Linked DNA regions of Homo sapiens. The protein of the gene in region 1 purifies or fractionates together with the protein of each later gene. This does not show direct contact. Each region holds a gene or a part of one and is shown in the gene's direction. Other genes may lie near its edges.

Region 1 (2,484 bases):
TTGGATGTCTGTCAACTGAGACGTGTGATTGCAGCCCATGGCTTTTCTTCCAAGGAGATCATCACTTTTTGGCAGGTCATGCTAAGGAACACCACATGCCATTATTAACTTCACATTCTACAAAAAGCCTAGAAGGACAGGATACTTTGTGGAAAGTGTTAAATAAAGTAGGTACTGTGGAAAATTCATGGGGAGGTCAGTGTGCTGGCTTACACTGAACTGAAACTCATGAAAAACCCAGACTGGAGACTGGAGGGTTACACTTGTGATTTATTAGTCAGGCCCTTCAAAGATGATATGTGGAGGAATTAAATATAAAGGAATTGGAGGTTTTTGCTAAAGAAATTAATAGGACCAAACAATTTGGACATGTCATTCTGTAGACTAGAATTTCTTAAAAGGGTGTTACTGAGTTATAAGCTCACTAGGCTGTAAAAACAAAACAATGTAGAGTTTTATTTATTGAACAATGTAGTCACTTGAAGGTTTTGTGTATATCTTATGTGGATTACCAATTTAAAAATATATGTAGTTCTGTGTCAAAAAACTTCTTCACTGAAGTTATACTGAACAAAATTTTACCTGTTTTTGGTCATTTATAAAGTACTTCAAGATGTTGCAGTATTTCACAGTTATTATTATTTAAAATTACTTCAACTTTGTGTTTTTAAATGTTTTGACGATTTCAATACAAGATAAAAAGGATAGTGAATCATTCTTTACATGCAAACATTTTCCAGTTACTTAACTGATCAGTTTATTATTGATACATCACTCCATTAATGTAAAGTCATAGGTCATTATTGCATATCAGTAATCTCTTGGACTTTGTTAAATATTTTACTGTGGTAATATAGAGAAGAATTAAAGCAAGAAAATCTGAAGTATTGTCTTGTTTTTAAAAAATACAGTTCCTAGTGTTTTTAGAAGTCACTTAATTTGTCTCATTTTTCCACCTGGAAATTAGGAATAATGTAGAATGCAAGGCAGTAATTTCCTTTTGGAAAGGACTCTGAAGGCAGAAAAGAAGGGAGAGAACCTCATGGGCAGAATATTATAAAAAGAGTGTCATATTCCAGCATTTGAATTGGAAAGAGAAGAGTGAAGATCCAAGTTGCATTATTAATCTGCCCTGTGTTTTTTCCTTTTAACAATCAGTTTGAGCTGCTGCTGTTATGAGTTTCTCATCAAGATGAAAGCCCTAATATGTAAAGTCAAATCCGATTTAAATTTTGTGCTTTTATAGAAAGAAATTTCTTCATAGACGTGGTGATATATCATTTGTTGGACCTGCTAATAGTAGGTCAAAGGGGAGCACTCCTTGCCCCCTGTTCCTGGGTTTATGCAGTTTTCTTTTTAGAGTTTATATAGGGCAAGTGGTTCTTTTTCTCTGAATTACAGGATGGAAAAAGGTCATATCCTTTGTCAGGAAATATAAACTTGAAAGTATGTAGTCAGCTCTTGTAATACTCATATTTATGATTGTCCTATATGAAAAACAACTTCAGTTAAAACTATAATGTGTGATTCTGTATAACAAGGTGATGTCTGTTTCCCAGGGCTCAGACCTAATCCAGTTATAATAAAATCAATTAAATGAAATATTCTATAGAATCGATCTATGCCCTTGTTAATCTCCATCCATATAGGAGTCACGTTCTTTAAGACAGATGGTGGTAGTTATTTTTGTGGCATGGTTAGATTTGACTGGTTTTGCAGAAGATTACAGTTATGTACTGCATAATGACATATACAATAGTGGTCCCATAAAATTATAATGGAGCAGAAAATCTATTGCCTCATGATGTTTTAGCCGTTTTAATGTCATAGCCTAGTGCATTACTCACGTGTCTGTGGAGATGCTGGTGTAAACAAACCTACTACACTGCCAGTTGTATAAAAGTACAGCACATTCAGTTATGTACAGTATGTAATACTGATAATGACAATAAATGACACCGGTTTGTGTATTTACTTTTTATAATTAGAGTGTTCTATTCCTACTTATTAAAAAAATGTTTAATAGAGCCTTGGGCAGGTCCTTCAGGAGGTATTCCAGAAGAAAGCATTGTTATCATAGGAGATGACAGCTCCATTCATGCTATTTCTCCTGAAGACCTTCCAGTGAGACAAGATGTGGTGATAGAAGACAGTGATACTGATGATCCTGACCCTGTGGGCCTAGGCTAATGTGTGTGTTTGTGTCTTAAGTTTTTAACAAAGTTTAAAAAGTAGAAAAATAAAGTTTAAAATAGGAAAAAACTTACAGAATAAGGATATAAAGATATTTTTGTGCAGTTTTACAAGATGTTTGTGTTTTAAATTTAAGCTAAGTGTCAAAAAACTTTGACAAAAGAGTCAAAGTTTGAAAGTTTGTAAAGTTAAGTTACGGTGAGTTAAGGTTAATTACTGAAGAAAGAAAATTGTTAAATGAATTTAGTGTGGCCTACTTTAAATGTGCCATGTTTGTAAAGTCTACAGTAG
Region 2 (3,957 bases), on another chromosome or scaffold:
ACTGGCTGTTCCCCGCTGCCTGGGGCTGCTCAACCTCTCCAGTCTCATAGAGACCACCCTGACCAGGGTCCAGTGGTCTCTCTCTAGCCCCTGTTCTATTTCACTTCCAACAGAGTGAGTATAACTCCCTGATCCTAATTGTTGATCGTAACCTACCATCCTCTACACACACTGTGTAGGAATTTACTGTGCAGTTCCACAGCCACCAGCCACATGTGCCACAGGACACTTGAAATGGGGCCAGTCCAAAATGATTCCTGGGCTAAGTGTAAAAAATACACAGGGAATTTCAAAGATTTACAAAACCAAAAAAAAAAAACACACATAAACGATCTCATTAATAATTGTTCCCGTTAGCTGAAATAATATTGTGGCTATATTAGGTTAAATAAATATTTTAAACATTACTTTCACCCATTTATTCTCATCTTTTAAAATGCATCTACTAGAAATTTTCAAATGCTTGTGGGTTCATGTCACATCTCTGTGGGCAGCAGCTCTGCAATGTCACCTCTATGGCTCATCATCCAGGTTCCGTCTTCAAGCCCTAGACCTCCTGGCATGGGCAGTAACTGGTGATAGGTTTGTTTATTGAATAATGAGTTATGAAAACAGAAGCCAGTGACCTTTTCCAAAAAGGTTAATTCCCTTAAATTTGGCAAAGAAATTCTCCATATTAGGGTGTGGACAGGGTCTTCTGGAACCTTCTGAAATAACCTCTCTGTTCCAGAGATTCAGAGACCGTGACCAAGTGCTCCTGGAAGCCTCTGATATCTGAAGACCCCGGGAGGCCAAGCCCTGTATTTTTCCCCTTTCTGAGCAAACAGGAAGTCACATTGCTTTCACAGTCAAAGGACCAGTGTCACCTCTGTGGAGACCTGGGTGACTCAAGCTTGGGAGCACTGGGGAAGAGAGGCATGGCTCAGGGAGGCTGCAGTGAGGACTGGAGTGGGGAGGAGGGGGAGATGGAGGAGGAGGCCTGGGAGGGGCAGGGGGAACTTAGGCAGGGAGGGAGCTTGTAGTGGTGGGGGAGTGAAAAGAGAGATGGAGAAAGAGGGGATGGGCAGAAAGAGGAGGAGGAGTCAGGGGCAGGGCATGGAGGTGGGTGGGGCTGGGCTGCCAAAGCAGGATAAATGCACACCTGCCTGCTGGTCTGGGCTCCCTGCCTCGGGCTCTCACCCTCCTCTCCTGCAGCTCCAGCTTTGTGCTCTGCCTCTGAGGAGACCATGGCCCGGCCTCTGTGTACCCTGCTACTCCTGATGGCTACCCTGGCTGGGGCTCTGGCCTCGAGCTCCAAGGAGGAGAATAGGATAATCCCAGGTGGCATCTATGATGCAGACCTCAATGATGAGTGGGTACAGCGTGCCCTTCACTTCGCCATCAGCGAGTACAACAAGGCCACCGAAGATGAGTACTACAGACGCCCGCTGCAGGTGCTGCGAGCCAGGGAGCAGGTGGGTGCTGCCTCCACCCGAGGGGTCCTGAGCCCTAGCCTGGTTTGTTGCCGGACCCCCAAGAGCATTCCAAGCAAATCAACACTGACACATTCATGATCTAATGCTCAGATTCATTCAGCTTTCTCTGACTCTCCGCTGATGCCCTTCATGCCTAAGCATGCTCCCGGTCCATGCACTGCAGACAGTTAAAGGAAGTGCTGCAGCTTCCTTTAACCTGCAGCAGCTGCTGTGTCTGTACCATGACCGTGGCATTTCCCAGCGTCCAGCAGGTGTGGATGGAGACTGTGCTGACTCTGGGTGGGCTTGATGCTGCTCAGGATGAGATCCAGGCGGTGAGGCTCATTCTCCTCCCTGAGTCCTCTCCTCAGGGGCCACATGGGAACCTGGCTCCCTGTTCTGCAGAGCCCTTCTTCCTTCCCCAAGTCATGCCCTTGGGCACAGCCCCTTAGGGCTAGTGGCCTTCACCCTCAGGCAGGCTGACCCACCCCTGCAGGCCAGGATGGCTGAGTCCCTGCTGGGGTGGAGCACGCCTGGCCCTGCCTCTACGAGCTGATGCAGAGTTAGACCTCAGCCAGATGAGGACAGCAGTCACCCAGCAGAGCAGAGGAGGGGTTAGGTCCAGAGTGAGCTTCAGCAGGGCAACTGGGCCCAGCTTGACCTGCATCCCATGGCAGAGCAGCAAATAGTGACACAGCCTTTAGAGCTCCTCCACCTTCTAGAAATTCAAAGGAATCCAGACCAGTCCCGTTTCTCCTCCTACAGCTGTCAGCTGGAGCCCTCACCCTGCACAGGAGGTGCACTCCCTGGTGCCATGGTCCCCGCTGGCCTGCATCTCCCTCTTAAGCATGACAGTAACTTGGAGTGAAGCACAGGGCATTGCAGACCATCAGACCTGGAAGCCTATTTTATACATGGGTAAACTGATACTCGAGGGATCTCAGCAGTTCCTCCTGGTTCCAAAGAGTCCCTCATCCCAGGTTTCTCCACAGCTCTGCCACGTAGTGTCTGGGAGAGGCCCTGTGCAGGGAAAGGGTTCAATTATAATCTGCAATTGTAAGACACTCAGGTGTGCTGCTGACTTGAGAAACGTATCTTGAACCTCACACTTGAAATGGTGGCATCTGGGCGGCCCCATTGACCCAAAATATCTGTGTGTGTGAAGCATCTCATTTCCTACTCTAAGTGAAGTAATAAATCTAGGTTAAATGGAGGGAATAAGATTTTCGTGAGTTAGCTGAAATTTTGTCATCAGACAGCCTTCCTAGAAAAGAGTCAGTGTTCCCTCACCCCTGAGCCACAGGTAGCAGAATTCAATGAATCCTCTTACCCAGCACAGAGAAAACGATGTTTAAGAGCGGGCATGAGGCTCAGCACCCTGCCAGCTGACAGGAAGAGGGGGCTTGTGTGCCTTGTGTTGACATGTGGGCAGCTCACGAAGCCCCCAAGCAAGTCCAGTGACTCAGCCACAGTGAAGTGCCTGTGAGTGCATGAACTGATGGGGGCGCTGTCCGTGCTTCCTGTTTTCTCCTGTGTGCAGACCTTTGGGGGGGTGAATTACTTCTTCGACGTAGAGGTGGGCCGCACCATATGTACCAAGTCCCAGCCCAACTTGGACACCTGTGCCTTCCATGAACAGCCAGAACTGCAGAAGGTACGTTCCTGATGCGGGTCCCGGGCCAGTCATGCACTGCAGAGGGGTGCGTATGTGTCAGCCTCTGTCCTACCCATGTTTGGACGGTGTGTGTGTGCAGGTGGGTATGTGGGGAGCCGTGTATGCATGGATGTGTACGTGTTCATGTACTTATGGGGGGGTGTGCATGTAGGTGTGCATGTGGAAAGGTGCACGTGTGTACACACATGTGCCAGTGTGTGCGGGTAGGTGTATGGAAGCATGTGTGCCTGTGTGTGGGTGTGTGGCGGAAGTATGGGGGTTTGTACATAGATCCATGGGGATGAGGGGTCCAAGTGAGTTTACGTAGTTGCCTATGTGTGTGCAGATGGGGTGGTGAGGGAGGGGGTGATGTGTTTGATTTGCTAGGAAGGCTTTAGCTTGGGAATGGTTACTAGAAGGTCAACTGCCTGCTTTGGGGTGTTGCCTGTTGGACAGGAAGAATCACCTGCGGGGCTGGGTGCTGGGCAGGGAGAAGGGGATCTGTCTAATCCCAGCCTCAGGCACCTGCATGCAGCCAAAGCCACAATCAGATTAGTGGGACCTAGAGGCCTGTTAGCTGGGAAGCCCTGGACCTGCCCGGCTCACCCAACACCAGCCTCTCCAAGAACCTGCTGGTTCTTGTGAGGTCTCCACTCAGGGGAGAGCGGCACTCCCCTTGTTGCCCTTGACCCATGCCCCAGCTCTTTGAGGGGGAGTTGCCCTGCCCTGGGTTCTTCCCTCTGGCCCCTCTTAGTGCTGGCCTGGGTGCTGGAGGTGGAAGGAGCTGGGGGAACTGAGCCACCTCCCCATGTCCTGCACCCTTGGGGCTCCCGAGGCCTTGCCCAGGCT
Region 3 (3,500 bases), on another chromosome or scaffold:
TCCCTATGGCCACCACCACTACAAGCCCACAGGGATTATTGCCAGGCTACGGTTCATGTTCACTTAAGGCCCAAGGGCTCTTCAGTCAGCTTGTGGTGAATGTTGCCAGGCCTGGGACTTGCCCTTCAGGGCACTGGGCTCCCTTCTGGCCCAGGCAGGTCCAGGAGTGCCATACAAGAGCCAAGGTCTGGAATCAGGAACCCCAAGAGCCCACTTGGTGCTCTGTTCCACTGTGGCTGAGCTGTTATCCAAGTTGCAAGATAAAGTCCTCTTTACTCTTCCCTCTCTACTGCTCAAGTGGAAGGAAGGAGTCTCTTTTGGAGCTGTGAACTGCACTGCCTTAGATTAGGGAAAGGGTGGCATAAGCACTGCCTTAGCCACCTCAGCTGGTGGCTCACTAGGTTACGTGCCCCCTAGGTCCAATGACTCTCGAACCCAGCACAGCACTAAAACTTGCCTAGAAATTACAGTTCTTGTGGCCTAGACTGCCTTTCAAGTTCATTTAGGGCCCCAGGACACTTCAGCCTATAGTGGTGCGGCTTGTTGAAACTCAGGCTCCAACCGCTGGGATGGACATTTCCCCTCTGGCTAGGGCACATCTAAGTTCTCCCTCCATGGGCATTGGCTGAGTTCTTTGCTAATGGCCCGGGTGTTGCTTGCCAGTTGGCCTGGTGTTGCTTTCTGCTGTGACATGGTAACACTGAGTTCCAGTGCAAAGTCCCACAATCACTGTGCTCCCCCTCCCCCAAGCACACAGATTCTTTGCACCACACGGCCACTGCATGGGGGTGGAAGGGGTAGTAGACAATCGAAAACTGTCTTTCCTACTCTCTTCAGTGTCTCTTTCAGCAATATGAAGTTAAAATCAGGTACTGTGATCACTTACCTGATTTTTGGTTCTTGTGAAGGTGCTTTTTTGTGTAGATAGTTGTTAAATTTGGTGTTCCTGTGGTGGGGGCAGCGATTGGTTGAGGCTTCTATTCAGCCATCTTGCTTCATCTCCCTCCAATAGATTAAAAAAAAAAAAGATTTTAGAATTATCTAATTTTTTTCTTTAAAAGATGTAGATGATTGGCTTATAATTATAATCTTCAGGTGTTTCCAGAGTCATTGTGTTCTGTCATGAAAGTAATGCAAGAGCAATTTTGCTGTAATGAAAAGCTAGAAGTTTCGAGAACACTTTATTTTCTAATTCCAAAACAACAACAAAAAATAGAACTTTGCTAGCTGGCTGTGTCTACTGTCATTCTTTGATTAGATACTTTGAGTTCTGCATACCATGAGGTGTTGGTATGATAGCATGTTATGATAGAAACTTTTAGAAAAGACCAGAGACTTGAGAGATAGACTAACCTGCATGTGAAATTCACCTCCGTCACTTTTGCTCTGGTATTTCGAGCAAGTTATTTAACTTCCTTTGTAAAGTGAAGATTATACTTCTTTAGAGTTGCTGTGAGGATGAAAGCACTCAGAATAAGTTCTTGTTGAATGGTGGATGTATAAGGAATACCATGTGGTAATGATTATATGTTTCAATATTGTCAGGTGAAGTGAAGGACAAAAATGTTCAAGTGGTCGAGCTTCCCATTGTAGACAGTCTTCATCCCCGTCCTCCATATTTACCCTTGGCTGTACCAGAAGACCTCGCAGATCGACTTGTACGAGTGCATGGTGACCCTGCAGTGTGGTGGGTGTCTCAGTTTGTCAAATACTTGATCCGCCCACAGCCTTGGCTAGAAAAAGAAATAGAAGAAGCCACCAAGAAGCTTGGCTTCAAACATCCAGTTATTGGGTAAGAATCTGATTTTTTCCCTCAAACTGTGATATGTAGTAGTTAGGGTTATGTATCTTTACAATATATTGTGAATTTTACAATATGTAGTTCAATTTTTATAGTCCCACCAAAGGACAGAGGTTCTAGAGCTATCCTAAGGTCACATGGAGACTATTTTTTTTTGTTTGTTTACTTAGAACAGCTAAGAAAGTTGCTTAGTAGTGCTCTATTACTGTCTCCAGTTCTCCTCTTCCTTTGCTTCTTTCTCCTCTTATCACAGCTCTCTTTTGGCTTTTGTTGTTGTTATTTTTGAGATAGGGTCTCACTCTGTCACCCAGGCTGAAGTGTAGTGGCTCACTGCAGCCTCAACCACCCTGGGCTCAAGTGATCCTCCTACCTCAGCCTCCCAAGTATAATAGCTGGGTCTAAAGGCATGTATCACCATGTCCAGCTTCTTTTTATTTTTATTTTCATATTTCCCACCCCACATCTTTCCTTGTGTCTTAGTCTTCATATGTAGAGGAGTTATTGACCCCATTCTAAGTGTTAGACGTAAAGAAGGTACATGTGAAGTCAGAATATCAAATCGTATTTCTTCTCATGTAACTTTTGATTGAAATTCAATGGAATCATTCGTTCTGCCCACTTCATCTCTATAGAGCCCACTGAACAATTCCAATTTCCCCAGAAAAAGAGTGATTATGAAGGATGTGGGAAGGAAAGATGATAGAATAGATGTTCATATGATTGTATCCACATCTGGGTTATAGTCTGGAATGCAAAGCAAAGAATAGCCGTGAAGATGGCAGAGTAACTCTGGTGAAATCAAACCTTCACTCCAGATTCATAATAAAAAACTGGCCTTAAGTTTGGCCCATATACTGTGACCTAAAGGCGTATAAGTCTACCTTTTTCTACATATAAATAGTGATTTAGTAATTTGGGGGGAGGGGAAGGCAAGATTTAAGGAGGGTGTTTTAATTTATGAAAATAAACTGTTATTTTTATTTCCATTAATATTGCTTTGGGGCCAGGCATAGTGGCTCATGCCTGTAATCACAACACTGGGAGGCTGAGGCAAGTGGATCACTTGAGCCCAGAAGTTTGAGAAAACTCAACATAGGCAACATGGTTGAAACCCCATCAATTAAAAAAAAAAAAAAAAGCAAAAATTAGCCAGGCTTGGTGACACATGCCTGTAGTACCAGCTGTTCGGGAGGCTGAGGTGAGAGGATCACTTGAGCCTGGGAGGCAGAGATTGGAGTGAACCATAATCACGCCACTGCACTCCAATGTGTGCAACAGAGCAAGACCTTGTCTTAAAAAAAAAAAAATTACTTTGGAAACACTAAGATGGGAGGAGAGAGGAGAAAACTGTGGAAGTCAGTGCCTTATTCAGTACAGGGAAGTGTGAATCTGTGTCCCCAATTTTACAATTTTGGGGCTTTTCTTAAATATGACAGGTGAAATTAATATCTGCTGTCATTTGATATGGTGAAAAACAGAGAAAGGAAATGCATTATGCCCACAACAGAAGGGCTGGAATCGGTTTCATTTACCTAAAATAGTAAAAACCGTTAAAAGGTTTGCTGGTCTTAACGGTGCTGTAAAAGTTTATCCAGGTCTATGTTTTCCTGGGACAACTTTTAAGTTCTACAAGCTGGCAGTTATGGTGACTCTCCAGGGTAAAATAAAGAGGAAAACCCTTGGTATCAGAACTTTACAA
Region 4 (3,500 bases), on another chromosome or scaffold:
TGTATCGGGAGTGGAGCTCAACACAGGTATGGGGACAGCCGTTGGCCTCATGGCCGCAGGGGCCGCAGGAGCCTCAGGGGCCGCAAGGAAGAGGAGCTCTACCATGGGAACCCTGCGGGACTACGCTGACGCAGACATCAACATGGCTTTCTTGGACAGCTACTTCTCGGAGGTAATGCCCTCACAGTCACACATAAAATCGTCTTGAGATTGAATAATAATAATAGTAAAATACTCACAATGGTAGTAGGCCTCTTCGGAAATATGCTGTTATTCTCAACCCTATCCCAAACCTGAATAAAAAGTATTTCACGTCTCCTTAAAACACAAAATGCTAATTTGCCACAGGATTTCATATTCAACTGCCATAGCGCATCTTAGTACCGTGAACAAGGCCACACCCCTCATCATTCTCCACTTCCCTTTTCCATTTTTCTATCTTTTGTTTCCTTGATTCCTCACCTTGTTTCCCACAGCAGTAGCAAAGCAGGAAAATGCTCATCAAGGGGAAAAAAGGTGCATTTATGACCTCTGTTTTTGATGTCCTTCATGTTCTCCCGGAGCCTCCAACAGAAAAGAGAAAATAAAAAGAATTGGGAACGAAAGGAGTTAAAACTCAGGAACGCAGCATCACCACAACTCGTGCTAGATTAAGACCTAGAAGATAGCTCTCCTATTCTCAGTCCAGTGACTTATCCACCAACTGACCTTCACTACGAAAAGGGGTCCAGCAATAGCACTGCTGGGTATATATCCAAAAGAAAGGAAATCAGTATATCAAAGAAATATATGCACCCCCATGTTTATTGCAGCACTAGTCACGTAGCCAATACATGGAATCAACCTGTGTCCATCAACTGATGATTGGACTTCTAAAATGTGATTCATATACCCAATGGAATATTATTCAGCCATAAAAAATGAAATTTTGTCATTTTGCAACAACATGGATGGAACTGGAGGACACTGTTAAGTGAAATATGCCAGGCACAGAAAGACTAATTTGACATGTTCTCACTCATCTGTGGAAGCTAAAAGGAAAAACCGAACTCATGGAGATAGAGAGTAGAATGATGGTTACTAGAGGCTGACAAGGGTAGTAGGGAGGGGAAACAGTGGGATGGTTAATAGGTGCAAAAATACTGTTAGAATGAAGAAGATCTAGTATTTGGTAGCACAACAGGATTGCTATAGTTAACAATAATTTATTACACATTTTAAAAGAACTAAAATAGAACTAGAATTTTATCTCATATTTCAGTCGGCCTGCTTTATTCTCCATCTGTTCATACATGAATTTCACCATGATTCTTTACCAAACAAATGCTGAAGATGTTGTTGCAATTGTAAACTATATCTTAAAATTGGTAGTTACAAATGCTATCACAGAATGTGCATGGATAGTATCAATTATTTTAATGAGTGATTGATACCATTATTCAGTTTATTCCGTAACAACTTAACTCAGAAGTCTCTCTGAGGGATTGCTGTTATTCTTCCTTATTTTAGGGAAAAAGAAATTTCTAATTCTGTATTTCCTTTTAATTTTAGAAAGCGTATGCTTATGCAGATGAAGATGAAGGTCGACCAGCCAATGACTGCTTGCTCATTTATGACCACGAGGGAGTCGGGTCTCCCGTAGGCTCTATTGGTTGTTGCAGTTGGATTGTGGATGACTTAGATGAAAGCTGCATGGAAACTTTAGATCCAAAATTTAGGACTCTTGCTGAGATCTGCTTAAACACAGAAATTGAACCATTTCCTTCACACCAGGCTTGTATACCAATCAGTACTGACCTCCCTTTGCTCGGACCTAATTACTTTGTTAATGAATCTTCAGGATTGACTCCCTCAGAAGTTGAATTCCAAGAAGAAATGGCAGCATCTGAACCCGTGGTCCATGGGGATATTATTGTGACTGAGACTTACGGTAATGCTGATCCATGTGTGCAACCCACTACAATTATTTTTGATCCTCAGCTTGCACCCAATGTTGTAGTAACCGAAGCAGTAATGGCACCTGTCTATGATATTCAAGGGAATATTTGTGTACCTGCTGAGTTAGCAGATTACAACAATGTAATCTATGCTGAGAGAGTACTGGCTAGTCCTGGTGTGCCTGACATGAGCAATAGTAGCACGACTGAGGGTTGTATGGGACCTGTGATGAGCGGCAATATTTTAGTAGGGCCAGAAATTCAAGTGATGCAAATGATGAGTCCAGACCTTCCCATAGGCCAAACCGTTGGCTCCACATCCCCCATGACATCTCGACACAGAGTAACACGATACAGTAACATACATTACACCCAACAGTAAGTGCTTTATGGTCAGTATTCTATGTGGAGACCTTGCACCTTGTAATCATCAATACATCCACCAAAAATATATAATGTACCATATATATTAATAGTCAACAAATACTCAGATATTCTAAGGTCAATGCCATTATTTGATTATACCATTTTGAGGGTGAATATGGCTAGGCACTTTAGATAAGCCTTTTTAAAATTCTTTCTGATTTTAAATAATGCGTCAAAAAATGTGCAGAAAATGTATTGCATCCCTTGATACTGTCTAACGAATAGCACATAACTCATATTGTGAATCCTATGGGTCTTGAGGCCTGTAGAACCAATCTTGTAAACCAAGATGCCTTGTTCTTGGAAGTTACAAAAGAAGCCCTGTCTACATCCACCAGCCATATTTTTCGTTAGGGAAATATTTATATTAAAATTTTTAATTGAAAAGTTGAATGAAATGTACATTCTGAAAGGAAATTGAAAAGGAACGTAGAGTATCTGTCAATATCTTTAGATATCTGAAGTCATTTGTCTCTTCAAAAGATTTTTCAATATTATGCGCTATTAAGCAATAGGAGATGCTTAATATAATAAGAAAAGAGTTTGCCAACTGAAAGCATGGCTGGAAATGGTTCATCAAAGAAAAATATATATTTTTATTGAACTTTATTGATTTATATGATTAACTGTAAATTAATCTAGAATAGCAAAAAAAAATGACAATCCTAAAGTAGAAAGAGTTATTGGGGAAATATTAGAGTTTTCCCCACTTACAGGGAATTTTTTCCCTACTGTTGCCAATTATGTCAGAAAAATACATGAAATATGGCTTAACCAATTTCATTGACCTGAATCGTAGAGCTTTCAATTGGCAACCAGATATTCTCCAAAAGCACTCTGTAGTTATTCATATATTCTACAATATTTACTTAGAAGCAACTAGGTGTTGGGTGCTAGTCTTGGCTCTGTGAATATACAGGTAAAGAAGACAGACATGGTTTCTGCCTTCATAGAGCTTCTATTCATTTCTAGACTTAAAATAAAACTCTGGGATATGGCTTTAAGTTCCTAACAACAATAATTAACCAACTACTTAAGTCCATTACCAAGTTGTGTTTCTCTTTGCAACACTACTGTTTATGTTGAATAAATAAAATGGAAACACATTGCTTACTTTTCGTAGGCATAAAGCTGACT

What was found.
Region 2: the proteins of B3GALNT1 (region 1) and CST4 purify together in Homo sapiens (affinity purification with mass spectrometry; 3 studies listed by BioGRID and IntAct, with this or other methods). This does not show direct contact.
Region 3: the proteins of B3GALNT1 (region 1) and FUT8 purify together in Homo sapiens (affinity purification with mass spectrometry; 3 studies listed by BioGRID and IntAct, with this or other methods). This does not show direct contact.
Region 4: the proteins of B3GALNT1 (region 1) and DSG4 purify together in Homo sapiens (affinity purification with mass spectrometry; 3 studies listed by BioGRID and IntAct, with this or other methods). This does not show direct contact.

What each region holds. Positions count from the first base shown.
Region 1 is NC_000003.12:161,083,383-161,085,866, reverse strand, and holds the end of B3GALNT1 (UDP-GalNAc:beta-1,3-N-acetylgalactosaminyltransferase 1), read left to right. Parts: coding exon 1-108; 3' UTR 109-1,984; downstream 1,985-2,484. UniProt on the Homo sapiens protein: Transfers N-acetylgalactosamine onto globotriaosylceramide. Plays a critical role in preimplantation stage embryonic development.
Region 2 is NC_000020.11:23,686,239-23,690,195, reverse strand, and holds the start of CST4 (cystatin-S precursor), read left to right. Parts: upstream 1-1,157; 5' UTR 1,158-1,226; coding exon 1,227-1,454; intron 1,455-2,994; coding exon 2,995-3,108; intron 3,109-3,957. UniProt on the Homo sapiens protein: This protein strongly inhibits papain and ficin, partially inhibits stem bromelain and bovine cathepsin C, but does not inhibit porcine cathepsin B or clostripain. Papain is inhibited non-competitively.
Region 3 is NC_000014.9:65,720,230-65,723,729, forward strand, and holds part of FUT8 (alpha-(1,6)-fucosyltransferase), read left to right. Parts: intron 1-1,545; coding exon 1,546-1,792; intron 1,793-3,500. UniProt on the Homo sapiens protein: Catalyzes the addition of fucose in alpha 1-6 linkage to the first GlcNAc residue, next to the peptide chains in N-glycans.
Region 4 is NC_000018.10:31,411,277-31,414,776, forward strand, and holds part of DSG4 (desmoglein-4 isoform 2 preproprotein), read left to right. Parts: coding exon 1-172; intron 173-1,551; coding exon 1,552-2,319; 3' UTR 2,320-3,500.